Linked DNA regions of Homo sapiens. The protein of the gene in region 2 interacts with the protein of the main gene of each other region in a pairwise test. Each region holds a gene or a part of one and is shown on either strand. Other genes may lie near its edges.

The links.
Region 1: the proteins of KHDRBS3 (region 2) and FXR1 interact in a two-hybrid assay, tested with the Homo sapiens proteins (one large-scale study listed by BioGRID and IntAct).

The regions. Positions count from the first base shown.
Region 1 is NC_000003.12:180,919,170-180,922,669, forward strand, and holds part of FXR1 (RNA-binding protein FXR1), read left to right. Parts: intron 1-3,500. UniProt on the Homo sapiens protein: mRNA-binding protein that acts as a regulator of mRNAs translation and/or stability, and which is required for various processes, such as neurogenesis, muscle development and spermatogenesis.
Region 2 is NC_000008.11:135,460,456-135,463,955, forward strand, and holds part of KHDRBS3 (KH domain-containing, RNA-binding, signal transduction-associated protein 3), read left to right. Parts: intron 1-3,177; exon of another isoform or gene 3,178-3,433; coding exon of another isoform or gene 3,434-3,500. UniProt on the Homo sapiens protein: RNA-binding protein that plays a role in the regulation of alternative splicing and influences mRNA splice site selection and exon inclusion. Binds preferentially to the 5'-[AU]UAAA-3' motif in vitro.

The DNA.
Region 1 (3,500 bases), on a different chromosome or scaffold from region 2:
CTGAAATGTACTAGTCTGAATTGAGACATGCTTTAAATGTAAAATACAAATTGGGTTTCAAAGCCTTAGAATTAAAAAAAAATGTGAAACACCTAAATTTTATTTTTTTTTTATTTTTGTTTTTTTTTTTTTTGAGCCAGAGTCTTGCTCTGTTGCCCAGGCTGGAGTGCAGTGGCACTATCTCGGGTCATTGCAACTTCCGCCTCCTGGGTTCACGTGATTCTCATGCCTGAGCCACCCGAGTAGCTGGGATTATAGCTGTGTGCCTCCACGCCCAGGCAATTTTTGTATTTTTAGTAGAGACAGGGTTTCACCATGTTGGCCGGCTGGTTTCGAACTCCTAACCTCAAATGTTCCACCTGGCTCAGCCTCCCAAAGTGCTGGGATTACAGGCGTGAGCCACTGCGCCGGGCCAATAATTTTTTACATTGATTACATGTTGGATAATATTTTAGGTATATTAGGTTAAATAATATTGAAATTAATATTATCTATTTCTTTTCATGCATTTTGTTTTATTTTGAGATGGAGTCTTGCTCTGTTGCCCAGACTGGAGTGCAGTGGCGCAATCTCAGCTCACTGCAACCTCTGCCTCCCGGGTTCAAGCAATTCTCCCGTCTCAGCCTCCTGAATAGCTGGGACTAAAGGTGCCAGCCACCACGCCCGGCTGATTTTTGTATTAGAGATGGGGTTTCACCATATTGGCCAGGCTGGTCCCAAACTGCTGACCTTATGATCTTCCTGCCTCAGCCTCCCAAAGTGCTGGGATTACAGGCATGAGCCACTACCTCCTTCTTTTAATCAAGATAATTTATGCTATCAGTGTATTTAACTTGCCTGCCATTCTCTATCTTCAGCGTTTTTTGCTGTCTATTTTGGGAAGATGAACAGAGGTCTCCATTAGTAAAATAGCTGATGAAGTTTATTATTGTTGGCAAAGGGATGCGCTCCCGTGTTGAGATTTCTTCAGATCAGGAGCCTCAGAGGCTCCTGAATTCCTTTCTTAATCTACATAATTAATCATAGGTAGCTGTTTTTGGTTCCCTTTTCATGTAACCTTTTTGTTTTTACAGTTTTTCAGGTTATTTTCAAGTCTTAAATTTTGTTGATATATGTACTTAGTTCATAGTAAGCCCTCAGTGTATATTTGTTGAATGATGTGTAATCTTAGTAACTGCTAACTTCATCATTTCTGATTTTGGTTCAAACTGAATTTAAATGATTTTTTTAAAGAAGTTATGTTTTGATCTTGGTCAAGTTCAGATATTGTCACAAAACTTTATGCATGCATAGAGGGAACTGTATAGAACTTAAACTCTGCAACGAGAAAGTCAGAATAGTTTTGTTCTTTTTTTTTTTTTTTTTTGAGTCTAGCTCTGTTGCCCAGGTTGGAGTGCAGTGGCACAATCTTGGCTCACTGCAACCTCTGCCTCTTAGGTTCAGGCGATTCTTGTGCCTCAGTAATTATTGTAGCTGAGATTACAGCCATGCACCACCACGCCCGGCTAATTTTGTATTTTTAGTAGAGATGGCGATTTGCCGTGTTGACTAGGCTGACCTTGAGCTCCTGATCTCAGGTGATCTGCCTGCCTCAGCCTCCCAAAGTGCTAGGATTACAGGTGTGAGCCACCATGCCCGGCCCAGAATAGTTTTGGGTGGCCATTTGGAACTGTTAACTTATTCCATTTCAAAGAGAACTGTTAGATAATACATACAAATGGGTGAACCTAACAAGCCAAGAACATTACTGGTATGTAAACAGTAGTAGTAGACACTTGTGTATTCTTAAAGAAATCTTCACATCCTCATTGTCCTTTTTCTTTTTTCAAACTCAGAACAGTTACATGCTCAATACTAATGAATGCTGAATGCTTGCCTTGAATAATTTTTTTTTCTTATTAGAGCTTACTCCATAATTGGCTGGGCGTGCTGGCTCTTGACTGTAATCCCAGCACTTTGGGAGGCTGAGGCGGGTGGATCACTTGAGGGCAGGAGTTCGAGACCAGCCCGGCCAACATGGTGAAACCATCTCCACTAAAAACACAAAAATTAGCAGGGCATGGTGGCTGGTGCCTGTAATCCCAGCTATTCTGGAGGCTGAGGCAGGAGAATCCCTTGAACCCAGGGTGGGGGTGTGTGTGGAGGTTGCAGTGAGCCAAGATCACGCCACTGCACTCCAGCCTGGGCAACAGAAACTCCATCTAAAAAAAAAAAAAAAAACTTGTAATAATTATTGTAATGTATAATGTAATTGGTAAATTTGCAGACTTTTTGAATTTGTGGAACAAGTATCTAGTGATTTGGAATAATTTTACTTTGTAGATTTAGTTGCGTAGATCTTTTTAAAAAGTATATTGTTTGAAGTTAAGACATTTTTTTGATTGCAGTAGCAGCCTTGACTATTTGGTACTTGTTGGAATCAAATTACAACTTAGATCTTTTAGTTGTGGTAAGCATCTTATAAGTTTATATCTTATAAATTTGAGATCCCTAGAGATGGAAAAATTAGAAGTGGGGAGTGGTGATGCACATACGTGCTGTATGGAAAACGTGTTGGCTGACAATAAGATATATTCTAATTCTTAAAAGTATACGTTTACATAGACACGTGTATAATTTTACACACACGTAAGTATGATATAAAAACTTAGTCTGTTGTATTTTTTTTTCCCCTGGTTGCTCTTCACCACCTGGGTCTCTCACCTCCGCCTCCATATTAGGTAACCTTTGTTTGTAGCACATATACGTGGTTCCATATATTTCACTATGCTCGTAGAATTGTATATAGGTACGCATTCAGTTACAAGTATAGGGTTTTTCAGTATTACTGTATAAAAATAGGATCATCCACATCTTAACTATTTTCATGTGGAGTATGATTTATTTTTTAAGGTTATATAATCATAACAATGTATTAAATTCAGCCATTCCCCAGTTAATAGACATACACTTTGTTTTCAGTTTTTTGTCGCTCCACATAACTATTTCCATTGGATAGATATCAAAGAATGGGATAGCTTGGTGAAAGGGAACCTTTAAAAAAACAAAAAACTGTAATAAATGTTGAAAGATTGCTTTCCAAAAAGGCTTCTGATGCTTCCTGTGTTCTCCATCAATAATAAATGGCAGCTTTTTCTTTTTATCTGGGCCAGAAGTTGGCTTTATGATCTTTAATTTTTGCCAGTCTGTTGGATGTAAAGGGATATCTCATTGGAACTTGATCCCAGTTGTGAATTTTAATGTTGTTTGCCATTTGAACTTGTTCTTTTAAGACTTGCCTTTGTTTGCCATTTGATTTTGTTTTTCTAAGAATTGCCTGTCTTTTGCCCATTTTTTTGTTGGGGTGTCCTTTGTCAGTTTTGAAAATCTTTCTGTATTATGGATATTAAGCCTCTGACCTGATGTAAGAGTGTCCACTCTCCCACCTATTTATTTAGGTTATTAATTTTGAGATAGGATCTCAAAATAAATAATACTGTGTCACCCAGGTTGCAGTGCAG
Region 2 (3,500 bases):
CTATCTAAGCTTTTGGGCAACTGAGATTTAATTTGAAATCTCAGGTCTTCTGTCTCTGAAGAGGTTGTTCTTTCTTATTTTGGCTTCCTAAAATGTTGGAATGAAATACTTCTCACTTGCTAACTTCAGACCCTGCAGAAATCAATATAATTAGTATGATTGTTTCCAACTGACTTAAATGTGTAGGAAATAGTATATATCCTTTAGGAAGTTTATCCTGATTTTTACAGAAAGTTTCTGTCTGCACTTGCCTTCTTTGAAGAAGCAAACATTCACGGTAGATTTATCTTCCAGGATTTTGATGCTGAGGCCAAGAGGCAGTTTTGAATTAAAGCCCTCCTGTGACTAGTGTATTAGTTTAATAATCAATGCATTATGATAATGAAGCAGTTTATAGATGAGGTGTAGTCGTTCTTTAAAAATTCAGTGTTCGTAAAGATTGATCAACTTCCTAACTGAATTACTCTTTTTCTTTCTTGAGCTAGGATGACAATAAGAGATATACTCCTGTCTGGTATACATTGGCTTTTATATTTTTCCAGACTTGTGTTTCATCGTGGGCACTGATTGCTGATTTTATTTTCATTTTACCAGAATAACTGGTTCTCCTCCTCCACCTCCTAAATGAATTTGTTTCCCGAATATTTATTTATTTATTTTTTTGAGACGAAGTTGCCCAGGCTCTGTTGCCCAGGCTAGAGTGCAGTGACACAATCTAGGCTCACCGTAACCTCTGCCTTCTGGGTTTGCGCGATTCTCCCGCCTCAGCCTCCCGAGTAGCTGGGACTGCAGGTGTGCGCCACCATGCCTGGTTAATTTTTGTATTTTTAGTAGAGACGGGGTTTCACTGTGTTGGCCAGGCTGGTCTCGAACTCCTGACCTCGTGATCTGCCTGCCTCAGCCTCCCAAAGTGCTGGGATTACAGGTGTGAGCCACCGTGCCTGGCCTCTGAATTTGTTTCTCTAACAAAATTAGTGGTTAATGTTTATTTGATGTTAAAAGTCAGTCAAAGAAAATAGGCTTTGGGATCCCACTCCGGACCCCGCCTTGGTGCCTGTAGGGTGAATTGACATTGCAATTCTTGCCAAGGAGAGGTTAATTGCAGATGAAAGTGGTGTTGCATGTTTTATATTTGCTAGTAGGGGATGTGCTGACTCTTACTAAAAAACATCTTTAGAAATGTCTTATGCATTATAATTTAATCCAAGTCTCTGATATTGGTTTGGATGGTTTTCAATACAAGCCAAGTAACCATTAAATAAGATTACATAACACTGTATTTTTAATTATCTGATATAATGTATGGATTGGTGGCTGGCTCACTGCCAAGTTACATTTAGTTGTCGTTGATTACAAGAGAAAGTGGAGCTGAGGATTCAAGATTAAGGTGGTCCAGATTTGTGTCTAGGTTGATAAAAGTTTTTTGTTTGTATATCAAAATGGTTTTTATATCAGTTTCTCAAATATTACAATTCTTAGCATTACTTAGAATAAATATGGAGGATAAAAATATATTAAGGAAGGATTATTATTTTATGTACATCTCTTTGTAATCCACAAAACCCAGGGGCTTAAAACTTGATTTTTGGGGACCCCTTTTGGAAAACATTTCGGATTTGCTTGAATGTCACAGACTTGTAAAGTAGAGAGTAAGAATGAGAACTGCAGAACTGTATTTAGGTATGGTGCCTTCATGCTATAGTTTGTGATTTTCTGTTTCATCCAAAGGAGGATGTGATTATTTAGTTTTTAGTTTTTTATTGTTTTTCTTTGTGTTATCAGTTTTTTTTTTTTTTTAAGAAAATGCGATCACTCACAGTGTTAGATATGCCATTTCTGAGTTTTATACAGTGTATTATGATTAAAAGTGACCCAGTGATTGTGAGTTACAGGGTTTTGGTATTGGACATTAGTAACAGGCTTATAGAGAACCTGCCATGCTGGTTCTCTGTGTTGGGTCCCAGGGGTAGGGAGGAAAAACAGTCTGCACTGGTGAGAAGCTCCTGCTCTCCTCTGTGTGCGTTTGAGAATGAATTTTCGGTTTGTAGATGCCCTCTTTCCTAAGGAACATCTTAGTCCTTCAACTATGCTGAAATATTTAATGATTGGATGGCTTAGATTTACTGTTAATAAATCAGCTTGTGGACATTTTTGAGGCACTTGTTGGTACTGGGTCATGTTTGTAATCTCGATACTGGTAACAGCTCAGAGATGGAGAGGTTATTAGCCTAGTTTTTCAGTTGTAGAAACCAAGATTCTGACAGCTAAAGTGACTTGCCCATGGTGACATGCTTATAATAAAATGTCAGAGTGAAGGGTCAAGCTTTGTTCTTTTACAGGTCCATTGTTCTTTTTACCATGTCCTACTGACTCTCAGTAACACTGAGAGTCTAAAGGGCTAAGTTACTGGCCAACCTGTGATGGTATAATTAGTGAATGATAGAAGGAGAATCAAAACCCTGGCTTTTTTATGTGCAGTTTGTTTTTCCTCTAGCCTGTGCTGAATTGAAAGATAAATTATATAGCATCCATTTTCATACTTCATTCTTCACATTTCTGCCCTAAGATAAGTCCTCTGACCTTTTTCAAAATGGGTTGGATTGCCTGTTTTCTGGTGTCACATAACACCTGGTGCTCTTACGGTGTGATCCTCATCACACTGCTTTGTTTGGATCTTTGTCTTTCTTGGTAAAGAGTGAGTTCCTCGGAAGACAGGGCCTGGTCTTTCCTCTGTATCTTCAGCACCTAGCATACGTCTGAGCACAGGGCCCTTGGGAACTCCTGTCTTCATTTCAGTGTTACGTGTTAATTATCATTAAGGGTAGCAGAATCAGAAAGTATATTTGGAATTTAGCAGTCAGTAAAGAGCTTTGCTTCTTACAGCTTTAGAGGACCTGAATTGGAGGTGGGGATGAAGTCAACAGTTCTGCCCATATCAATGAAAGAAGGTTCTGAGTGAAATGCAGGGTTGAACAAGCAGAAAAGCATCCCAGTGCTCTTTAAATGTGGTTGCACAGTAGGGATCCTTCTCTAGGAGATAATGAGAAGATGTTGTCAGATCTGCTTTGAATCAGATGTTTATTTACTTTTATTCTTTCTTAAGGAATTTATGAAATCACTGCACTCTCATCAATTTGCTCTCCTTCTCTAAACTCCTAATGATATTTCTCATGACAGATTAAAAACAGAATTTTGGAAGCCCTAGTCACATGCCAAATAAGGTTTCTTACCTGAGAGAGTTATCCGCAGTTTCAGATGCCAAAGGGAAACTCCGAAAGCCAGAGGAGCGATTGAAACCGCAAATTGAGTGCCAACAGCAACTTTGATATCAAAAGCCCCATTTGCCTGTTGTCACCAGTCCCGCTGAGTGAAGATAGAATGACTTATATCTTCTACCAAAACAATAGAAGGAGAGTGTTCCTTGGCGTTGGGGATGATGATTATAAAAGCCACCAATTTGAGGCTCTTCCGTGCCAGCTGCTTTCTGTGCATTCTCTCCC